5 separate regions of the Homo sapiens genome follow, and all the other regions are linked to region 1. Evidence: fine-mapped expression QTL. A gene starts in region 1. Each other region holds a variant in brackets. All regions are shown on one strand. Distances are from middle to middle. Region 1 holds the start of CD36 (CD36 molecule (CD36 blood group)). Region 2 holds the start of LOC107986812 (a long non-coding RNA gene). Region 3 overlaps CD36 (CD36 molecule (CD36 blood group)). Region 4 has its middle 67 kb from the start of CD36. Region 5 overlaps CD36 (CD36 molecule (CD36 blood group)).

The links.
Region 2: its variant is fine-mapped to the expression of CD36 in whole blood (TOPMed, PIP above 0.99).
Region 3: its variant is fine-mapped to the expression of CD36 in whole blood (TOPMed, PIP above 0.99).
Region 4: its variant is fine-mapped to the expression of CD36 in whole blood (TOPMed, PIP above 0.99).
Region 5: its variant is fine-mapped to the expression of CD36 in whole blood (TOPMed, PIP above 0.99). The same link has a PIP of 0.9 or more in blood mononuclear cells, macrophages, stomach, sun-exposed skin and tibial artery.

What each region holds. Positions count from the first base shown.
Region 1 is chr7:80,636,308-80,641,418 of GRCh38, forward strand. It overlaps CD36 (CD36 molecule (CD36 blood group)), which reads left to right and starts at 2,335. Exons shown (of 15, transcript NM_001001548.3): 1 at 2,335-2,439.
Region 2 is chr7:80,482,156-80,487,266 of GRCh38, forward strand. All of the region lies in intron 3 of GNAT3 (G protein subunit alpha transducin 3), which reads right to left. It overlaps LOC107986812 (a long non-coding RNA gene), which reads left to right and starts at 4,312. Exons shown (of 3, transcript XR_001745252.2): 1 at 4,312-4,432. The variant A/T (reference allele first, on the strand shown) is at 3,133.
Region 3 is chr7:80,661,182-80,666,292 of GRCh38, forward strand. CD36 (CD36 molecule (CD36 blood group)) reads left to right here. Exons shown (of 15, transcript NM_001001548.3): 5 at 1-29; 6 at 1,809-1,988; 7 at 3,225-3,316. Among named protein-coding and RNA genes, the nearest start is that of CD36, 25 kb to the left of the region's middle. The variant T/C (reference allele first, on the strand shown) is at 3,220.
Region 4 is chr7:80,703,542-80,708,652 of GRCh38, forward strand. No RefSeq gene overlaps it. Among named protein-coding and RNA genes, the nearest start is that of CD36, 67 kb to the left of the region's middle. The variant C/T (reference allele first, on the strand shown) is at 2,753.
Region 5 is chr7:80,668,812-80,673,922 of GRCh38, forward strand. CD36 (CD36 molecule (CD36 blood group)) reads left to right here. Exons shown (of 15, transcript NM_001001548.3): 9 at 1,142-1,211; 10 at 2,166-2,353; 11 at 3,111-3,229; 12 at 3,959-4,032; 13 at 4,544-4,598. Among named protein-coding and RNA genes, the nearest start is that of CD36, 33 kb to the left of the region's middle. The variant T/G (reference allele first, on the strand shown) is at 2,322.

The DNA of each region.
Region 1 (5,111 bases):
CTCTATTCTTTGATTATGAAAATGAGAGCAATGAATGTTAATTAACTTGATTATGGCAATCATTTTACAGTGTATACACATGTCAAAATGATTCATACCTTGATAAATCTGGAAAAAGAAGAACAAGCAGTTAACTTCCAATTACAAGTCAATATAACTAGGGCCCGGTAGCCTGAGGATTTAAACTTACATCCTTCCAATTTCTAACCCTATGTGATCTCTTGCAAAAAAAAAAAAAAAAGAATTTCCAAAGAATTGTCTAAACTGACTGAAGTAGATTGAAAATTATATCCTGTCATTCTAATAAATTAATCCAGTGTTATAGTGGATTTACATAAAGCAAGGTATATGCTCACATAAAACACATCCCTTCAAAATATGGTGGGTGCATAGTCTTTAAAAAAATGAAAACCCCAACACTCTTTACTTTAAAATGGGTACAGCATTTTGCTATGTTATTGTTTAAGGTCTATATTTTTCTAAAAATCCACAGTTGCAGATTTGACTCAGCTGTGTGCTTTCAGATCTTGTATGCTAAGCTACTCAGGAACTGTTGTCTATGGGATTGAACACTTAACAGCTGTCTCTGGGAATGTAAATTTGATTCTTTGGACTGCTCATGGGACTCTGTGACATTTTCCTCTCCAGTGACAGCAGATTTGAATGGCATTAGGCTACTGATTAAATAATACCCAAGTAAGTTTAATGTCAACTTAGGCATCTATTTTGCATGTATTTTTTCTGAAATAATCTTTCTCTAATTGCGATCATATTTTCATTATACTTTAGTCTTTTAATATCTTTAAAATATGCTCTTTTAAACAGGTCTTATCTGAACCCTTTCGTTGGTAATCTTTTTCTGAATTGTCATATTAGAGTGTGAGTGTGTGAGAATTAAGGTTGAGAAATAAATTAGCTTAAATACAAAACAGCTATCTACAAAATAGATATTCTTAACCAAAATAATATGTCTTTATACTACCATTTTATATCGTGCCACCAAGATAAAAGGTCGCAGTTATTTAAGGGAATTACCTTCTTAAGTTTCATGAAATCACTGTGAGTTATTCTTTTCTAACTGAAAGCATAAATTATAAAGAGATTGCACATGGTCATTTCTACTTTATCCTAATTAAGTGGTCTGAGATTTGAAAAAAAAGTAATAGACTTACAATATTTTTATGACTTATTTTTTAAATAAATATGTCAGTAAAAACTTCCCTGGGGAAAAAAAATTCTTGAGGAGAAAAGAGTGTTTGGGGTTTTTTTTTTCAGTTGTATGGCACTGCTTGCAAATGAAAGGATTCGTTGTGTGCCTCACATGCCCAAAAAGGACAGCACGAGCATTCTAACTTAAGGACTGGTTTAAATATGACCTAATGAACTAAATATATTTCTGTCTGGTATTCTTAGGTTACTTTACTTCTAAGGTTGTTTGAATGCATTTATCCAGCTCTCCTATCAAATACATGCCAGGTTAACCCTGTGAAGGTTTTCCTGTATGATTCTGAGAATTTCTTTATAAGAACAGGGTCTTGATAGTGAAGGTTCTTTCCCCAAAGTGCAAGGCCTTCTATTTTGATTCAATATCAACATAATGCTTTTTTTTTTTTTGAAAGTGACTTAAGTACTAAAGATTATCCTCAATAGTAATTCTACTTAGACATATTTTGGTTGAAGAAATTTAAAGAGTTTATTTTTTGTAGGAGCACTGTGCTGTGATCATGAAATTTTTGCAAAACTAACAGAAAATGATAAACAGTTAAGAACTTCCAGCTAGAACAATAGGCTGTTTCCTTTTTTTAAGTCAGTTTGTCATCCTTGCTGATTGACAGTCTCCAATTGTTTTCAGAATTATTAGTCTCACAGTATTTCAGAATTACGCTGTATAAAAAAGTACATTAAATTTAAACTTAATAAAATAAGTTTCGCAAGCTCAGTCAAGACAGGGAAGTGAGAATATGATTATTCTTCCAAATTTACTATTTCCACCAGCGGTCTCAGTTCAGCATCTGAGAATATGTTAGGGGAAACTCAGCAAGTCAGTTCCTTTTGTTTTTCTGGCCTCTGACTTACTTGGATGGGAAATAGCCAAAAAAAAAAAAAATGCTGAATATCTCAGATATAGGTAATGGGTCTTCACCAGAACATAAAAATAGACCCTTATTAGCCATATCAGTAATGTGCTGTGTGGGGGATTTTTTTTTTCTTTCAATTCCTCTGGCAACAAACCACACACTGGGATCTGACACTGTAGAGTGCTTTCTCTTCTCTTTTTTTGGGGGGGGGAGGGGGTGTGGTTGCATATTTAAACTCTCACGCATTTATGTACTGAGGACTGCAGTGTAGGACTTTCCTGCAGAATACCATTTGATCCTATTAAGAATTGTCCAAATGTTGGAGCATTTGATTGAAAAATCCTTCTTAGCCATTTTAAAGGTAAGTTGTATGATTTTTCTTTAAATAAAAAAGATTAAGGGATTTTTCCCATCACCCAGATGACGGGAGGTGACACTACTGTATAAATACTCCTAAGAAGTTATATAGGAGGACAGGAAAAAAGGTAGTAACTGTTTTCTTAGTCACTAGGCTTTATCTAAAAATCAGGTTTGCATTATTTTCAAGTTATCAACCTTCCTATATTTTATGCTTAAACCATACCCAATGGCATTTCATGTCGTATGTATAAGTTAATATTTAAAGTGATTTATAATCCAATTTGGATTATTATAAAACTTTCATTTTATACTTAGGCTATTTATACATGATGTTTAAATGATGAAGATCATTATACTGCAGACCAATATAATGAGGTTAGATGTTATAAATGACTTACAGCTCTTATGTCAACATGTTGTCTAATATGCAATTATTAACTATTACTTTACAGAGTCATTAGCTTGTTTAATTTTCAATCTGAATTGCACAACTTTTGGTATACCTGACTTGCTCTACATGATCAAATGCAATGTGTATTTTGGATATGTGCTTTTTAAGTTCTTTTCTGTAATGAACAAAGATATTGTCATTGTTACTGGGAATAGCAAAGTATATTACTTTTAAATAATCTGAAATTTAATTAGTGTAAATTAGTAGAATAAAAATAAAGTTAATTTTTTTTCGATTCAGGAAGCTTATTACAAATAGTACTGAATTATTAGATGATGATGCCAAGTTGAAGTAAAGGAGAAATCAATTTGGAGGAATTAAGTAAAAGCCTCAAATTAATTATACATTAACTAAAATTATAAATAACTGTAAATGGCATAAATTCTCTAGAGTACATCCCAGTTTCTGAAATCATCAAGTAGCATATTGAAACCTGTTTTGTAAAGATTTGCATGTACTTTTTAGTCTTTTTCTGTGTGGTTTGAAGTCAGTAATGTGTGTTGAAGCTAAAAAATATTGCTTTAAATATTGGTTCACAAGGAAGCCAAAATGAAATATTTAAAAATGTTTGTTATATAGAAAGTCCAGTGGTCCTTTGGAATTTACAAGAAAATAAGAACTAAAGTAGAAATCATTTAATTTCCCAGACTCATTAGTGAACCAGAACAATAAACCAAACAGAGAACCATCAGATAATGGGTTAGCCTGGGAAGAATATTAATTACAACTGGAGGTACTTGCACAGAGTGTACTGAATTTGGAATTTACCTTGGAAGTTATAGTTGCCACCCTATTTTTTTAAGGAATTTTTTTAACCTTGTTTACTTTAACACATTTGAACCCTGCATGTGTGTGTATTTCCTGTGTGTTTCCTGAAAAGGAAAGTTTAAGATAATTCTGTAACTATCAGATACTTAATTCTGTAAGTATCCTTGCATCTAATCAGAAGATGTTTTTGTTCACTGGCCCAAGATGTGTCTGAAACTTGCAAGTAGCATTGTTCTAAACTAGTAGCTGTCTTTCCATTTGCATATTTTAATTCCATACATATATGATCACATTTCATTATAATCTAACTATTTTGCAAATACTCATTTCTACTTTTGTAAAATATACACATTTATTAGATTTTTAAAACACTTGGCCAATATGAAATAACACTTTACTGTTATGGTTTGAAATGATACTTCATAGTAATATTTCAAAATAACAATAACATTTTCTACAATATAAATATATATTATTTTACTTCATTTAATACTTGCAACCTTATTTGATGTAAGTAAACTCATTTTAGAGAAAACTGTATCACAGACAAACTTCAATACTAACACCCAGAACTGAATCTACATTTCTTGGCTTCAAGGTCCAGCATTTTTGGCATTACAAACTTTATAGTGTCTGTTTATAGTAGAATTTGGGGTGTGGAAAAAAGACATTAGCATTCTTGTCTAAGGTTCAAAAATTAAGAATGGGTCTAGATAATACTCTTTAAGTCAGTATGAACTTAAGGGAATAATTTCAAACCTACAGTAATCCCTGGTTCATAAGTCTTTAAAAGACGGGACTTGTTTCTAGAAGGATCCCAAGTATAATATATAAAGTCCAATGTATTTATTGCATTAGTTTTTAAAGACTACCATCAAAACAAGTTACAAATTGCAATATTTGAGAAGTATGTAATTATTTTATATTACAGATGTCTATCAAGTTTTTTCCTATTTTACATTTTTACCATCATATATTCTGATAGGATAGAAATGGACATGAGATAATTTCAGTAAGATAAGATTCTGGAGATCTCATAGTCCAGTTATTTGAAAATTACTTGTGGAGCCCATGGGTTCTTTGGAGATGACTCAGAGCCCAAGTGAAGCGTGACTGGGAAAGGGAAGAGGCACAGTTTCTGCTCCTTTCTTTTACCAAATAACTCTTCTTTGAACTATCTTTTATATTGGTATTGTGCATAAAATTTACCTTGAAAGGAGAATTCTATCTCTAAACATGATTTTATAAAGAATGACCTAATGACCTTATGTTGATGAAACATAATCATAGTTAAATGATTGTTTTACACCCATTTCTACTACCTTGAATTTGAATCTACATTTTTACTCATGTATAGGGAACTGTGTCTTTATAAACATACATAGTTATGATAATGTGAAAAAAGTAATTTTAAAAACTAACTTCTATACTCATGCAAACCGTTGAATGAATTC
Region 2 (5,111 bases), 150 kb before region 1:
TCAACAAATGGCCATATCAAGTCTCAACCTGATTTTCCTGCATCAACACAGGATAGATTTTTAAAACCCCATTTCTCTGTTAAATGGATATGAAAGAGAACTGCAAGTTCAGTGAAATATGCTCTGGTCACTTTCACTAGCATCATGCTATTGGCTCCTTCCACTATTAAAGTGCTGTTTAGGAGGAATGATGCCATAAAACAACCACTACACAGTTTTATCCCTAAGGAGAAAAAATTATATATCTTGTCAGCATAGCTTTACAAACCAAACAAATATACTGTTTCATTTCTTTCTGTTTTTCTTTCTTATTTTCTTTTTCTTTTTTCTTTCTTTTTCTTTTTTGTTTTTTTGTTTGTTTGTTTGTTTGTTTTTTGAGACGGAGTCTTGCTCTGTCATGCAGGCTGGAGTGCAGTGGCACAACCTAGGCTCACTTCAACCTCCACCTCCCACTTTCAAGCGATTCTCCTGCCTCAGCCTCCCAAGTAGCTGAGACTACAGGTGCACACCACCACACCCAGCTAATTTTTGTAATTTTTTTTTTTTTTTTTTTTTTTAGTAGGGTCGAGGTTTCACCATGTTGGCCAGGATGGTCTCGATCTCTTGACCTCATGATCTGCCCACCTCGGGCTCCCAAAGTGCTAGGATTACAGGCGTGAACCACCATACCTGTCCTTCCTTTTTAAAAAAATATTCTATTTTTAATTTCAATATACTTTATTTGTAGAGGTATCATGAATATAGTTCTAGTTTAAACACTTCAATGTTACAAAGTCTCCCTTGACCACTTCAATCCTACTACCTCCTACAAAGGCAAGTTATCCTATCAGGTTGGTTTTTGTGTCTCCAGACCTTTTACTTTTTAAATTTGTGCGTGCATAGTTGGAGCCTACGGTAATGATTTTCAATCCAGGCTGCACATTACAAGCATATGGTGTACCCTTAAAAGTACTGATAGCAGAACTGCAACCCAAACAAAATGAATCAGCATCCTTGCATGTCAGGCCCTGCAAAGGTAGTTTTTAAAAGCTTCAAGGTGACGCAACTGTTCTGACTGCATTAAGAATTTCTGGCAATATACAGTTGTTATTTTTTTAACCATAAATAACACTTTATTGAACATAGTGTATTTCCATTCTTGATGTTCTTCTGTGCTTATTGAAAAGCTGGTATAATTTAAAGAATTACAATTCTTTAAATTTAAAATTCCTTAAAGCTTTTAAAGGATTGAGCCTACCCATCAAATGTGAATTTTTAAAATATATAACACCAAAATGTATAGGTATTATGAAAACTTAGCTTCCTCATAACGGCCAAACTGATCGAACACTTAACTCCTATTTTATTGTTATATTTTAAAAACTCTAGTAATTTCTCACCAAACTCAAAACTCAACATAAAACCCAAATCCCTTATCCCTTACTGTGACTCACAAGGTTCTACATGTTTTGATCCCCTCTTTCCCTCCTTTCTCCCTTTCTCTCCCTGCCACCAAGACTCAAGATGCACTGAACAATTTGTTGCTCCTTGAACTCACCAAGCCCTCATTTCAGCGCATTTCAGTGGTTGTTGCCTCCATGTCCTTCGGTGGTTCACTTCCTTTTTCACTCAAGTCTCTTCCCAATACCACCTCCTCAATGAAGCCTTCTCTAATCATCCTTTCTGCCACATTTTTCAAATAACACCCTGTGGATTTGAGTGGCATCCCAAAGAAGTTTTATTTCCCTATGAGGTATTTGGAAAAGCTTGGGAATTACAGTGGGCCTGGAATGGCTCATTCTCTCTCTCTCTCTCTTTAAAGAATATTTATTTTATTTACTCATCATTTTTATTTTACTTTAAGTTCTGGGATACATGTGCAGAACATGAAGGTTTGTTACATAGGTATACATGTGCTATGGTGGTTTCCTGCACCTATCAACTCATCTTCATTCTCTTAAGATTGTGTAACTTTGGGACTACATTGTATAGAAAATAAAATATGTGTTTTCCCTACAGATTACTCAGAACTTCATCGTTAATATTAGGGATCCCAGGTGGTCTTAGAACTTTGTGGAACTTATTCTGAACCCTAGAGTCATATTTCCAAATATCATGAAAAAAATATCAAAAGAAAGGAAGACTATATAGTTTACCTAGTAATTGTGAGAAATGCTGAGTTAAAAATACCATGTTTTGTGGCTACTCGGTTTTCAGAATCTTTGAGTAGTAATATTGGTTGAAAATTTCCAAGTTATTGGACGCATATATACCAAACAAATCTAATCACAGAACTTCAATTGTAGAACATCTTGAGGAATCAGTGCTTTTTGGTTCATATTGTAGAGTTTACTTTGTAGGGTTCTATGTCCAAGATGATTACAACAGTGCTCAAATTATGTAGTAAAAGTGTTACAATTTTCAGCATTCTTTTATGTCAGTTGAGTGGATTCTATATGCTCCAAAATAGGATATAATAATATTCAAAAGGATAAGTAGATATTTACTAAATATCTTCATTATTTCTCCTTTCCTATTTCTTCAGGATATGAAGGTTTGTTACATAGGTAACAAAAAAAGAGGGTTTGTTAACCCTCTTTTCAAGTTCTATGCTTAGGAAATTCTAAGCCTATCAAATACTAAACCACAACCAATAAGAACAATCCCGATTTAGCTGCTTCCCCTCTAACTACATATCCCATCTCTCTCCTACTCCTTGGCTATAGGTCCTGAAATATTGTCCTTAACTGTTCCAATAGCCTATTCTCATTTCTCCACATATTCCACAGGAGTAGGAGTCCACCATTCTTCTGGAACCTCTCTCACTATATTCCCAATGGCTCCATATTTCTAAATCCAATAGATTCTATTTAATAGTTTCCTTTCTTGACCTCTCAAGACCTTTCAATGTGGATAATTCCCTTTGGAACACTTCTCTTGAATTCTGTGATTTCGCATACTTCTGATTTCCTTTTACTCTTCTGTCCTCTCCCTTGAAGGTTCTTTTCCTAACAAATGAGCAGAAAATATTGTGTGTTTTTTTTTTTTAACACTCTTCCCTAGACTCTGTTATCCCTAATACCCTTCCCTTCTTAATCTAAGTGCTTCCTTCACCTATTCCATCCTACTTTCTTAGTATGAATTATATGCCAT[A/T]GTATAATGGCATGCCAATAACACCTAGATTTAGATCTCTAGACAAAGTGTCCATTTTGGGCTTCAAATGCACATTTGTAATTGCTTACATATGTAGATATCAAATAGAACTTACAAACTCATTCCAAAACCAAACTAATTAGTTCTTTTCCATCCTCATTTAATGTTAGTGTTCCCCTTCTTAGTAATTCCTTCTTTAAGCAAGGATTGAGCTCCACATATAGCTGCACAGCCTTTTTGAAATAGCATATTTGTAGTTACTTGTTAAACATCAAGCTCTCCTCTCCTGATGACAAATATTATTTCCATCTCAGTTACTGCTGAGCCCTCACTACATCCCCGGTGTCCAACTAAATGTCTACCACATAAATAATAGTTTAATAAAAAATAATTTTTTCAAATGATGTTGGATGTATAGATTTCACTACCTAAATTTTAATGATCCTATATTCAAAATAAATATTGAAAAATAATACCTAATATTTACTGAAAATGTACATTCTATAATACTCTGTATATAGTGGATTTCTTATGTTTTTGCTTCCTTCTTTAATAGTCATTGTAACTCAAGGAGGAAAGCCATAACATTCTGTGGAAGCAGACACTGAAATTTAGAGAGGTTAACTTGTCCAAACTTATAGACCCAGTGACTAATAAAGCTCACATAAATTTTCTATCAGAACTTCTCTCTTTGGCAATCTGTGTGATGATGTGCAAATGGCTATATAAAAGTATATGCACTTGTATAAATAAATAATTGAGAGCTAACCAGAACTCTGAAAGTCACATGTAGGTAGTGTTTAGCAATCAATCTGTTAAATAAACAATTTTAAACAGGTCAAGAGTATATTAATCTCAAAACCAAGTACTAGAATGCAGCTGAAACTGATAGAGTTCACATAAGTGGAAATCAAAATATGAACTATGTCGTGCCTGACAACTGTGATGTTCTGATAGTTGAGAATATAGGTACTCTTGAGAAGTTATGACAATGGCTAAGTGCTGCTTAAGTTGATCTGTTTATGCCATTCAATGTACAGTTTGAATGAACTGTACTTTTATTTTTTAATTAGCATGATGGCAGCAATGTGTAGAGTTTATTATTTTCACTTCCCCTATATGTCAACTCATTAAGACTTTTACTAATAAATCTCTCATCTCACTTTTTTTTTTTTCAAGACAGGGTCTTGCTCTGTTGCCCAGGCTGGAGTGCAGTGGCGCCATCACAGCTGCTGCAACCTCAACCTCCCAAGCTCAAGTGAATCTCCCACCTCAGCCTCCCAAGTAGCTGGGACTACAGGTACACACCACCATGCCTAGCTATTTTTTTTTCTTTTTCTTTTCCTTTTTTTTTTTTTTTTTTTTTTTATAGATACAGTGTCTGGTTATATTGTTCAGACTGGTCTGGAACTCCCGGGCTCAAGCGATCCTCTTGCCTCAGCCTCCCAAGATGTTGAGATTATAGGCATGAGACACCATATCTGGTCAAATATCAAGTATTTAGTGATCAGAGCGTCACTGTTTCACAAACTCTGGGTTCTATGAAAGACACAGTCTATTTAAATAAGTAGCAATAGGCAAGATTGTGATTTCCAACTTCTCTGACACAAATGCATGGAATACCGTATTGCATCTACAAATTTAAACATCATTAAATCATTCTCAAAGGAATTCAGAGGGTACGTCTATTTTTGTAACTATTATTGCCTAAGAGGAAAAAATAAATATTTCTAATCATTAAATCCTTGAATAGCAAAAAGCACTATAATGGAATCCAGGAGAAGTGGATTTTTCCATAAACTTGAGCTACTTAATGTAAACCAACTAATCTTTGAGCCTTGTTTTTTTTAAATTAAGGTGGGTATACTATGTTGTTTCTTAAGAGCCAATTTAAAATCCTACGTTCTTAGGAAAAGCCAAGGTCAGATCCATAACTGAACTACACTTAAATAAGAACATGATCACTAAGTCAGAGAGAG
Region 3 (5,111 bases), 25 kb after region 1:
ACTTCACAGTTCTCAATCTGGCTGTGGCAGTGAGTAGACAAACAACAAAGTTATCTATTTTAAAATACTCTAGAACTCATGTAATTAATCCTATCATTAGAATTATTAGGTTTTACTTGTTTTTCCATTTTTATCAAAACGTATTCCTATATCATTATTTTGAATGGAGGCATGGTCATTTGGAAAGTGACAAAATCATAAGAATCGACTGCATTAGAAGACCACTTTATTTTTTTCATTATTTTTTGTCGAAACATTCTCTATATTTAATTTCAATTTTATAACAGATTACAGGAAGATGCTTAAGAAACAAGTACAACATTTGTTTCAGTATGTCTTTAAATGAAAGACTTTTAAGTATGTAAGCAACTATATAATAAAAGGTTTCCAAACGCAGCCTGTAAGAAATCAGGCAAATTTTACTATAAGCAATAAACCATTCCGAGCTTTCCAGACAGTGTACCAGTAGCTGTACCAGTGGGCAATAACCTTTAACCAAACAAAAACAAACAAACAAACAAACAAAAGCACTTTGCAATTTGTTGCTGCAAAATGGGGAGAAAAAAAGAGTATATAAACTTGATGGAATCACAACTGTCAATATAATTTAAGGGAAAATAAAGTCGATAAGGTTGATGGTGTCTATTGTTTGGAAAGTCGAATTCGGCTATTTGCTTGGGGCTCTAGAGACCACACCACTGAATAAACAAAACTCTGCAGAGTCTAGCTATCCGCCAACAGGGGGTGCCGTCCAAATTCATGGCAAATAAAGGGCATTTGGTGCTCACCATTCACAACAGGCGGGCATTTATGTGGATGAAGTACAATTTCTTCAGCAAGCTCAGCAAAAACTCTTAAGGGGCAAATATGAACTCTGCATTTTAAGAAAAATAGAAAACGGAAACACAAAATCCTAAAAAGTATATGAAGGCTCTGCATTAGCACACTGGCATCAAACCACACATCCACAGCACATCCTAATTCTATGGGAAACAATCCTTGCTTATCGGAGGTGCATATCTAAATTCAATAGCTTACCAATATATTCTTGGGAGTAGGCCAAAAGGAAACAGAAAACCCACATTAAAAAAAGAAGTTTCTTTTCCTAAACATTTTCCTGAAGCTGAAATTGAAGTGGAGAGGAAGTCAGTTGTCCTCGTCGAAATCGTAGTCCTCCTCATCCTCCCCAACCTGGGACACCGGGGTCTTCACCCTGGAGATGCTGTACTGAGACCTGTTGGAGCTTGTGGCCAGCATTTCATCCGCACCATTGGTCAGGTCACTGGCAGAGAGCCTCGTGCCGTTAGACGTGGAACCTGCCGTTGTGATGAACACGCCTGCAACAATTGTCTGCGCCATTTCTGTCACGTGTGGCTCCAGCGCCTTTGGGACCAGACTTATGGCTTTTTTTTTTTTTAAGTTCTGGGATACATGTGCTGAATGTGCAGGATTGTTACATAGGTATACATGTGCCATGGTGCTTTGCTGCACCTATCAAACCATCATCTAGGTTTTAAGCCCCGTATGCCTTAATGCATTAGATATTTGAGAAGACCACTTTAAGTGTATCGTTAAATAAATAGAGCTTAACTTGGAATGTCGTCTTCTTGTGGCTGGCACTGAGGCAAAGAAATGTAATCATCTAGGAATTAGACGAATTGCATTTTGAGTTTTGGCAGGATCTGGCAGTAATTTTAAAGATAAGCTTTAAAAAGTTTTGTATTAAGCTCAATATTAGCATTTAATCCATTTATTTGTTAAAATCTAATATTGTATTCTTGTCTTAAACAGTGACTTTGTTTTTGTAGGCTGCATCCCATATCTATCAAAATCAATTTGTTCAAATGATCCTCAATTCACTTATTAACAAGTCAAAATCTTCTATGTTCCAAGTCAGAACTTTGAGAGAACTGTTATGGGGCTATAGGGATCCATTTTTGAGTTTGGTTCCGTACCCTGTTACTACCACAGTTGGTCTGTTTTATCCTGTAAGTACCAAATATGAATGGCAATATTATTACATTTTAATTTAATTAATTCAATGGCATTGGCAAGGCATAATTTTATAATTTAGCTCATTAGTCTTATTGCTGATCTGGAGACATATATCCTAACTTTTTAAAAAGTCCACTTCTCATTATAGCTTCAGCTTTCCTAGTTGGGAAATTCATCTGAATTTAACAATTAAATTTAAACCTGAAGAATAGATTTAATAAGGTTTCTACTCATTTATAAATACACAATTTTTTTTAAATTAGCCGGTAAGCTAGTCTGTAAATCTTTGAGCACTGTTTTTGGCTTTTATTTCCCTATTCACATAATCAAGTTTAATACCATATTTTTATTTGTTTTAAATATACTCCTCATTCCTCCTTTTCTAGACCTCTTACAATTTTAATTTATATTTAAAAGTTAGCCTAATGTTCACATCTCAATACTGATAAGGTAATAGACTTCATTTTAATGGGATTTGTAAATAAGAATTTTTAGTAGTCCATAATGTCATGAAATGGCAGCTTGAAGATTAAGGAAAATGTGAACTTGATGGTGTACTTGATTACCGCTTAATGTTTTGAATTACAAATAGGATAAGCTAACTACTGAATTGGAAGTTGGACTATGACTTCATTTGGCACTATATGTGAATATTATGTTCTCTAGTTCATTGTTTTACTTTTAGATACTGTTAGGATTACAAGGTTATATATCAATTATAAATGAATGTAGAAAGCCATAATGAATCAAATTCATTCTGATTTTAACTCAATACTCATAGCTCTTTCTTTGGCTAATGCTTTAACTTTTGGATGTCTAATTTTTATCATTTTAGTAACCACTTATTATCATTTTAGTAACCACTTATTAATGACTGTAACATTTAGAATACCCCTAGAAATCATTGTTCTTATAGGTTTGTTCAATGTCCCTCACCTCAACATAGTAAGAATAGTGATCAAAATGCCCTCATTGGCTTAATTATGACAGAGTGCTAGAGTTCACATCATGTCAGCTTCTGATATGTATCTTCTTTGTCACAGCATCTAGCACTTATTTCTAGGCACCTTTCACAATTTTTAAGGCCAATAATTTAAAAAAATGTATTGCAGATGTATTTCAAGTCATTTGAGTAACCAGTGATTGAGAAATGTGAAAGTGAGTTATGTATTGTACAACTTTGAAAAAATGACTTGTAGAAGTAACATTTTCCCATACATATAT[T/C]TCAGTACAACAATACTGCAGATGGAGTTTATAAAGTTTTCAATGGAAAAGATAACATAAGTAAAGTTGCCATAATCGACACATATAAAGGTAAAAGGTAAGTATTCTGGTAAAATGTGCATGTATGTTACTAGGGTACTCTTAAGCAGGAATAGTATTCATTTAACATCTCATAAGACATAGGCATCAACCTATAGAACAGACCTGGTTATAATTCAGCTCTGGAAACTCCTGTTCTGCTAGGTATTAACTCTTTAGTTGTGGTAACTGGTGAGTTCACACCAGTGCATAGCTGCTGACTATCAGCTCCACTTTAAGGTTTGGTTCACCTTTCTGCACAGGTTATGGTTGTGTTACATAAATCCCCAAAGGGACTATTTTTTCATCTCTGCTACTTATCCAGCATTACAGTATAATTATTCTTACAATTAGATAACCATAAATGAAAAGGTAAAAAAAAAAAAAACAACACATCAACTGATTGTGTAGTAGATGGAAACTTTTTTTTTACTTTTTAAATCGAGCATATCGAATTCCATATTCCAGTGGCATGACCTAAATGTGTCTATAAAGATGGAAGCTTAATGAATCCAGGCAACTGCTTTCATGACCTTCCCCCTGCAAATAGTCTTTAATAATTTTCCATATTGATAACTCAGCTTTTTTAACTTTATCAATGCAAAAATAGAATGAATATTTCAAGTGCAGTTCTACAATGTAAATACAAAATGTGAAAATGAAGACTTTGCCAACTTTAAAGTGGTAAAATAACAAATCAGCTTCCTAAGCCATTATTTCCTTTTTTTTTTTCTAGCTCCAGCCTATTCACCTAAAGAATTTATAATTTATCATATATGTAAACTAGGAAGAACCCTAATAAATATCAGAGGAACAAGCTTTCTTCTCCATAAAATTAACAATTGTGTGTTTGACTAGTTTTTTTCTGAAAAAGAATAAAGTGATCAAAACCAAAAGAGATGAAATGTTTTTATTAATATAAAGTAACCCCTACCTCAAACTGAGTCTATCTAATGATTGCTTTTAACAGCTAAATATTACTAGTGGAGTACTTTTTCTTCTAAAGAGTCCACAGTTACATATTTTTATAGAAAAAGTCAGTAGAGGGAAAAAAACACTTCTAAGTATTCACTTAAAAGGAAATCACAGCAATTTTTTATATTGAGAAATAACGAGCATTTCACTCTAATATTACAGAGAGATGTGGAGGGGAGTTGCAAAGCACTCCTAGTTAGAGTAAGAATTTCACATCATTTTAAGATTGTAAGGTTGATTTAACTCATGGCAAGACTGAACATGATTAACCACTTATTTTGTTTAAGCAATGGCTTGTCTTGACATGTCACTGTCAGGAGTGGAAAAAAAGTTTTTCCATCACCAAAAAGTGAGGATGCAGGGAAACTATTACTATTGTTTTTATCACTTCCAGATATATATAGCTTATTTAGACAGCAAAGTATAAGTTAGTAAACTCTTTCCTACTTTAACGCCAGTCCATGGGAGAATTAAAGGGAGGAAGGGGCAAGAATATAAATTAATCATCTACATGTTTTGAATGTTTGCTGATCCAAACATCTGCTTCTTTCCTCTTCCCTGCTTCTCTCTTCTGCCTGCCTTGTACTTAGCTTATATCAGTTACCCACTTAACACTTTCCTTCTATTCATTCTGAACACTTATACTACTGAGTAATTCATGTATCCCATTGGAAAAAAAAAAATTTCCCCTAAGTAGAGATCTAAGTTTCTGATAAATGTTTTTAATTTTTTTCTTATTCCAAGATGTTTCTAATTAACACCTGGCAGTTTTTATTTTATGATCTGGCTACCTAATGGCATCAGGTACATTGCAATAAGATAAAAGGTTCAAACAAAAC
Region 4 (5,111 bases), 67 kb after region 1:
TTTAGGGTAATGGTTAGTATTAATAGTATCAAAGTGAGATAAGGACTAAAAAAGCATTTCATTGGATCTGGTGGCTTGAATAACACTGTAAGAATAAGTTTGATATAACTCAAATGTTCTATGATCACTCTCCCACCATGCTGCTTCTTACCCAATAAGCCTCCTTTTTCCTCCTCTCTCTGACCAGCACCCATATAAATGCAGGCAGATACTTCTAACTATTAGTATGCAGCAGAAGTGATGTTGCATGACTGCCTAGCCAGGTCATAAAAGGTGACGCAGCTTCTGCCTGGCTTTGTCTTTCTATTCAGACTGTCCCTTTGGAGCACTGGTCATTATGTAATCAGCCTGGCTATCTTGAAACCACCATGCTAGACAGGCCATATAGAGGTAGAGAAATGCCTGCAGAACCCCATATCTGGTCTCCAGCTGTATGAATCTTCTCAACCCACTTCAACATGTGAGTGAGGAAGCTTTTGAGATGACTTCAGCCGCAATCACCACCCCATTATAACAACAGACTCCTGTGCTAGTCAGCTCAGCTTCCATAACAAAATATTATAGACTGGGTGGCTTAAATAATATATTTATTTTCACAGAGTTCTGGAGGCTGAAAGTCTAACATCAGGGCTCCACCGTGATTGGGCTCTGCGGAGGGCTGTCTTCCTGTCTTGCAGACAGCTGTCTTCTCTCTGTGTCCTCACACGACAGAGGGAGAGAGCTAGCCCTGGTGTCTCTTCTTATAGTCAGTACTAATCCCATTGGACCAGAGTCTCACCCTTATAACTTCAACTAACCCTAATTACCTCCAAGAGGCCCCATCTCCAAATACCTTACATTTGGGGGTTAGAGTTTCAATTATGAATTTGGGGGTGAGGGATGGACACAAACATTCAGTCCATAAACAGAAACTCCCATCTGGAATACCTACCTGAGTCCAGTCCACACCAGAACCATGAGAGATAATAATGATAAAGGATCATTGTGGTTTTATGCACTAAATTGAGGATGCTTTGATATACAGTAGAAAACCAGAACTCTTGCCAGGCATGGCAGCTCACACCTGTAATCCTAGCACTTTGGGAGGCCAAAAGGAGAGTACTGCCTGAGTCCAGGAGCTCAAGACCAGCCTGGCCAACATGGTGAAACCCCATCTCTACAAAAATACAAAAATTAGCAAGGTGAGGTGGCGCACGCTTGTAATCCCCGCGACTTGGGAGGCTGAGGTGGCAGGATTACTTCAACCCAGAAGGCAGAGGTTGCAGTGAGTCAAGATCATACCACTGCACTCCACTGTCTCAAAAAAGAAAAAAGAAAAAGAAAAAGTAAAACCAGAACTGCTGTTCATCTTTCAGACTTCTGCCAGCTATTTCTGCAGAGAAGAACTTTCTGCCCTTCCCCACTTCTTTCACCCAGGTACAAGGTAACTATACATCCTTTGTGTTCCCCCAAACATTTTATTTTGCTTTAACATGGAGTTTTCACAAATGAGAACAATTGTCTCTATTTCCTACAAGAATTGCTGGAGGCAGACAATATAGAAGTCATAAAAAATGTTGAAAAGATAAATAAGCGTTTAAAACCTACACATATCATGTCTGAAGAATAGACTTGTGGGTCTATTGCATCAGACGTGGAAGGGGCAATAGGGGCAATATTTTATACCTAAAGAAAATCAACATCAGTTTTACCCTTCACCTTCAGCCAGCCCATTAAGTGTGTATGAGAGAGAGAGAGAGAGAGTGCACGTGTGTGTGTACAGGGTTGCCCCACCTAAGAGAGAGAGAGAGAGAGAGAGAGAAAAAGAGAAAGAGAGTGTGTTTACAGTGTTGCCCTACCTGAGAGAGAGAGAGAGAGAGAGAAAGTGTGTGTGTGTGTGTGTGTGTGTGTGTGTGTGTACAGGGTTACAACTAAACTGACCCACAAGTCTCTGAATTTTAGTGAGGCACAGACCTAAAGGAGAGCATCATCAGAGTAGTGTGCTTGCTTTTCATATTATATAATGATTTAATGGAACCACAGATGGTGATTAACACTGCAAACATTAAACAGAAGAAAGATTCCAAATGTATTAACTTAATCAAAGCATATTTATTGAATATCTGCTATGTGTCTGGAACTATCCTATTTGTTTTAGGAGAAATGAGAGATGTATAAATAAGGAAGTCTTCAAGGAAGTAATTTTCTAGTTAGTGAGATAAGACAAACACAAAAGAAACTTAATAGAGGAGATAAATGGCTTATTTGAGCATATTAAGATATAATACAACCCAGCAGGAAATAATACATGTAAATAGTTTCCAAGGCTATGTTCAGAAATATTTTCTCAATGTAGTTACCAGGGGTGGGGGAAGGCAGGGGTGGGCAATGGGGAGATGTAAGTTAGAGGATACAGAGTAGCAGATATTAGGGTAAACAAGTCTAGCAATCTAATGCAGATGAGGTTTAGAGTTAATATATTGGCTCACGCCTGTAACCCCAGCACTTTGAGAGGCCAAGGCAGGCAGATCACCTGAGGTCAGGAGTTTACTACCAGCCTAGCCAACATGGTGAAACCCCATCTTTACTCAAAACACAAAAATTAGCTAGGCATAGTGGTGCACGCCTGTGCTGCAGGCTGAGGCAGGAGAATCGCTTGAACCCGGGAGGCAGAGGTTGCAGTGAACTGACATTGGGCCACTACATTCCAGCCTGGGTGACAGAGTGAGACTCCATCTCAAATAATAATAATAATAATAGTAATAATAATATA[C/T]TGTATTCAGAAATTGTGCTAAATGAGTAGATGTTAGCTGCACTTGCCACACACACTGAAAAAAGGGTAACTATGTGAGATGATGGATATGTTAATTTGCTTCACTCTAGTAACCATTTCACTGTCTCTATGTATCCCATATCATGTTACATACCTTAAATATAGACAATAAAATTTATTAAAATATTTTTTTCAAACTTGGGCATTTAAGACTTGGTAATATGAGTGATACCAAGCTGAAACACAAAAGAGATTGTTATATTTACAAATTTTTAAAATATCACAATTACAAAAACAAAGATATTCCAAAATAAGAACTCTCTTGAATTTTCTAATTAAGAGAAACAGCAGTGTTCTCCTATGGGCTCTAACAACGCATCTGCATACTGATTTTCCTTTCTCAGCTTTTATATTTAAAGGACATGTATCGGCTTCTCCTTGGTGTTCTTAAGTCCCCAACACTTTCAAAAGTTGTATGTGATCTATGGGGAAATATGATTGATACCAAATTGTATTCAGGCCATCAAGTAAAATCTCAACATTTCTTACTGTTCCTTCTGAAAGTCACAATTCCTATTCCAAACAGTTATTTCTTATTCTTTTTTAGGCTTTGAGGCCCAACTTAATAACTTTGCTCAATAAAAATTGTGCTGTTTTTAGTTTTCCATAAAAAGTTAATATAAAAGTAGAAGCATAAAAAAATACACCAGAAGCATAATGGAGTATAGAAATGTGTAAAATGAATTACTTTTCTTTATCCTGTTCTTTTTATTCTTTATATTAGTGGATGGCTCCTTCCCTTACCCAGCTGTGAATAAGATCAACTTAAGTTGCTTTCAATTTAGTGGGGATACAAACAAGCAAGTAGGAAATTGTGATACACTGTTATAATCAGGGAAGGGCAAGAAGCCTGTGGAAAAATCAGACTGAGAAAATTGAAAAAAAAAAAAAAACAGGAAACATCAGAAAAAATAGTTGTTAATGAAACCAAATCAGAGGGAATTCTAAGCAGAATTAACATAGTATGAAAAGACTTAGAGAGGAGTGAGATTCACTGGAGGAGCAAAAACAAGTTTCATATGGCTGTAGTTTCCAGCACAAGTTAGGGACTGGCAAGAATGAAGCTGAGATGAACAGTGGGGTGAACAAGGAAGGATTCTGTAAATCAGGCTAAGAATCACTGAACTTGTTGAGGATGAGGTGTAAACATTGGGGGTTTTAGGAAGGAGGATGACACAACCAGATAATATTTAAAAGATCATTCTGGCTATTGTGTAACACATTTACTGAAGGATGTTATAACAAGTTCCATAAAATATATTAGTGATCAGAACAAAGGCAGTAGAAGTTCACAGTGAAAGTGGACAGTAATCAAGAAACATTGAGGGAGTTGAATTGACAGGACTTGTTGATCGATTTGTAGGATATAAGAGGATTTTTATTTAGATAGATTAGATATTTAGATAGATTAGATAGTTGGGTAACATGACATAGGCAACACAGAAGTAGACATGGTTTTGGCTGGGTGAAGTGATGTGTTCAGCCTTAGAAGTACTGCTAGGTGCATATAGAATGTAGAAGTATAACTCAAGAGAGAAAGAGACAACTGGATAAAGACATAACTGAAGCCATGGACATGAATGAAATCATGCAGGGGAAGAATATAGCATAAAAAAATAAATAAATAAATAATAAAACAGTCTAAACAAAGTCCCAAGGAGCGTTAACTTTAAAGATGGGGCTGGAAGAAGCAGCATTTCCAAAGGACTTAGAAAGAATGCCAGGAAGAGGAAGAGGAGAACAGTCACAAAAGGTAAGAGAAGAGTGTGCTTTAGGGAGAAGCATTGGTGATGAGCAGCCCCCATCCTTGTGAGAGACTGTGGAGGGAAGCAATTGCAGTAGAGTCATGGTCAAGGAAACCAGATTGCTAAAGAGTGAGTGAAGTGTTAAGTATTTAAAACATATATGAAACTCTTTCAAGAAGTATGGCCACAAAAGGGAAGTCATCAACTAATTTTCATCATATATGTAAATTAAAACACTAAAAGAAGGTATCCAGGATATTGTGACATGGAGAAAGTCTCCTAACTGTTCCTCTTTAAGGGCAACCTAAGTGAGCACACTTTATCTTATCTGCAAGCAGACTATCTTGATGAGCGTTAGAAAGCCTAAAAACCCAACTTAGCACAACCATACAAGAGTATGCTCCCACACTGTGTCCGTCTCACCCTTACCCAAGTGAAGCTGCAGTTTCTAATACCTTTGTTTTTCCTCTCCACTCATAATCAACGTAAAATTGGATCCTCCATTGTGACTGAGGTGAGGTAGTATGTAAACAGAGATCATTCAACCTAGGGGT
Region 5 (5,111 bases), 33 kb after region 1:
TGCATAATCAAAGATGAGACTTACCATTTAAAACTCATTCAATGACGGCTCGTATTAGTGATATTCATGTGAGAAGTACATGGAGGAGTTAACTATTTCTTCATATATCCAATGTTTGCCATGGATCATAGCTGTAGCAAAAAGTAAATTCAATAAATGACTTTTTTATACACTTTCAAAGCATTTGAAGTTCTGTTTAGTGAGAGAACTTTAGTAAATATTTTTAGAAGTAGTAATCAGCCATTAGGACAAATGAGAAAAAAAATCACTACAAATAAATGTGGACATGGCAGGAGATCCAAATGAACTTCACTGGAAGAAAAGTGCCACTCTACTGGTGGGGTAGGGCATTTCAAAAAACAAACACAATGTTAGCCTTAACATTTCATGTTTAAGTTTCTTTTATTTTGTACCATTAAATATGTATAGTATGTAGATTTGTTGTTGACAATAGCAGCCGCCAGCCATATGTAACTGTTAAGGACTCAAAATCTGGCTAGTATGATTTGAAATGTGCTGTAAATATAAAATGCACAGTAGATTTTGAGACTTTAAGAATTTAAAATATTTTATAATGGTTACATGTTAAAATATTTTGGATATTAATAAGTTAAATATAGTTTTGTTTTGTTTGAGACAAAGTTTTCCACTTGTCGCCCAGGCTGGAGTGCAATGGCATGATCTTGGCTCACTGCAGTATCCGCCTCCTGGGTGCAAGCAATTATCCTGCCTCAGGATAGCTGGGATTACGAGCGCCTATCTCAGGATAGCTGAGGCAGGCCTATCCTGCCTCAGGATAGCTGCCTCCCAAGTAGCTGGGATTACAAGCGCCTACCACCACACCCAGCTAATTTTGTGTATTTTTAGTAGAGATGGGGTTTCACCATGTAGGCCAGGCTGGTCTCAAACCCCTGACCTCAGGTGATCCACCCGCCTTGGCCTTCCAAAGTGCTGGGCTTGCAGGCATGAGCCAGCATGCCTGGCCGGTTATTTCTTTTTACCTTTTAAAAATGTGGCTGCTAGATAAATTACTTAGGCAGTTTGCATTACATTTCTATGGACTACACTGGAGGAGAGATTTCTAGGTTTTTTTCTAGAACACACATTACATCTAATCATTTGCCACTCGATTTTTAAACAGATGCAGCCTCATTTCCACCTTTTGTTGAGAAAAGCCAGGTATTGCAGTTCTTTTCTTCTGATATTTGCAGGTAAGACAGATACTGAAGTATAAGTATGTCTGAGTCAGACCCCAGGTGACAAAATGCAGACCAAGAAACTTAAACACAGCATAGGAAATTCATCATGTTTATTAACTAACTCTTTGCAAAATGTTCTTCTGCATCTTCCAATTTTTAATAGTACAAATTTTTTTTTTTTTTGCCATTTCTATCTAAGCAAGAACCATTTTGCCTTTTAAAAACTAAACTAGTAGTCTATTAACGATCAAGTCCAGAAGGGCGTGCCCAATCTTTCTAAAGACATACAGAGAAGATGATGCAAATGTAACAGAACTGTGTTAATGTGCTCTGCTCAGATTTGTGGGGCCCAGTAGATAACACACAAGCACTGGAGCCTTTACCACTACCCTTGAGCCCAAGCTCTGTCCCTAAAGACTGTATGCTTGTGGGTAGGCATTTAACATCTCTGAATTTTTTTCTTATCTGTACAATTTAAGACAGCAGTATTTCTTCATATACGTGTATCTGGGGATAAGAAAAATATGTGTATTGAACCCTATGATAGACACTTGGTAAACGATGGAAATGTACCAGGTATATATCCAGCATGTATATGCATACACTCCAGTGAGTGGTCTTTCTTTCCAGGATTAATTAAGCCGTGAAAGAAACTATTTCATTTAAACTGATCACAAATAAAGTATTTGAAGGAAGTCCTATAAATATTTACTCTATTGGATAAATTGCCTGTGAGAAGTAACTTGAGTATAAATAAACATGGTACTTCACAAACAAGAATAGTTCATGCTTGGCTATTGAGTTTTAGTATGTGTTAAAATTTCCCAATCACTTTTTTTCTAAGAATGAAACAAGAATTTAAAAGAGTATATGATGTTTCTAAGTTAAAACAAGAATAAGAAAAAATGAATCTCCAGAATGTAAGTTCAGGTTCCTGGAATGCAGCTCTTTTTTCTCTGTATTTAGGTCAATCTATGCTGTATTTGAATCCGACGTTAATCTGAAAGGAATCCCTGTGTATAGATTTGTTCTTCCATCCAAGGCCTTTGCCTCTCCAGTTGAAAACCCAGACAACTATTGTTTCTGCACAGAAAAAATTATCTCAAAAAATTGTACATCATA[T/G]GGTGTGCTAGACATCAGCAAATGCAAAGAAGGTGAGTAAATAACCTCAGTAGCACAGTCCATACCATAATTTGTGATATTCTTTAAGATGAGAACTTTACCATAATCCTTTAGCAACCAAAATTTAAAATATATCATAATTTGTGATATTCTTTAAAATGAGAACTTTACCATAATCCTTTAGCAACCAAAATTTAAAATTAAAGTAAGAAAGTAATTAGGGCAGAAGAAAGAATGGTGGCAGAAAATTTTAGTGCTGATTTTGTATTTTGGGAAGATCCCACTTGTGTTTCAGTATTACAAAATTTAGTTAAAACCACACCAGTATTTCCTTGTGGCTGCTTTTAGATTTAGGGTGAAATGAAAATAATTCCGAGAACACATTAAACATCCTGTTATTCATCTGTCCTAACTTTTTTCACTAGAAAATGGTACAGGTAAATGTATTTTCAGTATGTATCTAAAGCTAGAGTTAAACATAAAATTTGGAGACTAGCTTATCCTGTACATATTTATCATACTAACGTGGGTGTGGAAGAAGAAAGAAAAAACTAGTGTTAAATAAATTCTTAGTCCATAGACATATTACTGCCTGAAAGCTTTACATATTGAAAATTAATACTGAAGGAGTTTATAGTAGAAATCAACTGACATAATTCTTCCCCACCCATGTTAAAAACCATGTATTTTTTAATGCAAGAAGCTTTAGTTTTGTGGAAATATTTTTTGAGTTATATGTGAAATGAAGGAAGTTATTAATTCCAATTGACTCTTAAAACTTGTCTTCAGGGAGACCTGTGTACATTTCACTTCCTCATTTTCTGTATGCAAGTCCTGATGTTTCAGAACCTATTGATGGATTAAACCCAAATGAAGAAGAACATAGGACATACTTGGATATTGAACCTGTAAGAAAACACCTTATTGATCTGATTTGGTTGATATTTTTAAAAATACAATTGAAATAAAAATAATCTTGTCGATGATTATTTATTCAATAAATAATCATATTTATTGAATCACATTCTTGAAAGTTACTGAAACTTAGGTCGATTTCTTCCTATGGTTTATGAAGTGATTCTAATTGGCTTAAAATAATTTTATATAAATATTTATGTTTAGATGAGGAGTTATTGTATATTATGCAAAAGTCAAAGAGTATATGTGAGTTTGACTATACTTATTGTCAAAATCTATAAAATTGTTGTAGCGCAACAGTTTTAATCATCTTTATTTTTGTATTTTCCTTTTCAAAAAGTAAATGAAATTCTAGGATTTTAGTAGTTATGTTTTAGTTTAAACAATGACACATGGATTCTAACTGAATATATATTTGACCAGGAATTATCTGAGATCTTATATTTTGTTGCTGATTTTTGATTTTTTAAAAACCATTTCAAGTAACTCACAAATCTAACTAACTAAAACCTTGACATTCGATTGGGCAAATAAATTGTGTGTATCTATATGGATGCATGTGTATATAACTATAACTATATATGCAGTTTTAAAAGTTTCAATTAGTCCTGTTTAACCTTAAGTTACTACCTTCTCTTCTGCTGTAAGAAAAATAAGTTTTGAATAGTATAAAATAATGTTTTTAAAAGTTGGTAATTATTTAGTTGTTCTCTTTTTAGATAACTGGATTCACTTTACAATTTGCAAAACGGCTGCAGGTCAACCTATTGGTCAAGCCATCAGAAAAAATTCAGTGAGTCTCTTGAAAATGGTTATTTTGATATGATCTGTAGTATCGTAGTATCTTCTTGTAAGAACATGAGTAAATCTATGTAAGTAAGTGGAAATAACATCTGATATCAACTTATCTTTAGCTTAATGTCACCAATCATTATTAAATGCTTATGACTAATTTCACAGATTTTGGAATGGTTTTATGGTTTTATTTGAGCATTTGATAGCATCTCTTATTTTGTTAGCTGCCCAAATATTTCTATGACAATAATTAATTTTTGGAATTCATATTTCAGTTCCCCGAGAATTTATTGAAAGGAAAAATCCACACTTGTGAAAAAAAATCAATGTGATTAGAAGACATATAAGAGCAAAGGAAGTCAAAAACAACTATATTAAAATTTAAATGAGTCATTACAGGAACAAAATCAAATTAGCAACAGCAACTAATTTATGAACATTTATTTTAAAGTTTGTTATATATAAATATTAGTTTATATGTTCATAATTATTTTCAACGTATATTACAGAGTATTAAAGAATCTGAAGAGGAACTATATTGTGCCTATTCTTTGGCTTAATGAGGTTTGTATTTGCAGCTGTTAGTCATTAAAAACAACCTTCTTTGTATATAAACAAGCTCTTGATGTTTCAAAAGAATGTATAGTATTTAAAGCTATATGTATTTCCATTACCCATATGGATGAGTATACATTTATTTAACCTATTTGAGATGATCCAATTGAACAAAAACATTTCCTATCATTTAAGATTTTCTTCAAAAATGCATCTATTAAACACATTTTCTTGTTGTAACATTTGTCTTCTATTGCCTGACAAGGTATTTTTACTATAAATCCATGCATTGATAGCTATAAAAATAGGAAAAACATTGAATAAGTCTTTGGAGCAAATGAAACTGTTGACCCTTTGATAGTTCTGAAGAGCAAATGAATCCTAGTACATTGAAGAGTACCGTACTCTATCTGGCACTTAATTGCCTTTCTTGACTTGCAAAAGGAATTCCATTAACTTGCCTTATAGATACTGATGACTAACACCAATAGAGGTGTTAGAAAAAAGGGTGATAGGCAATTG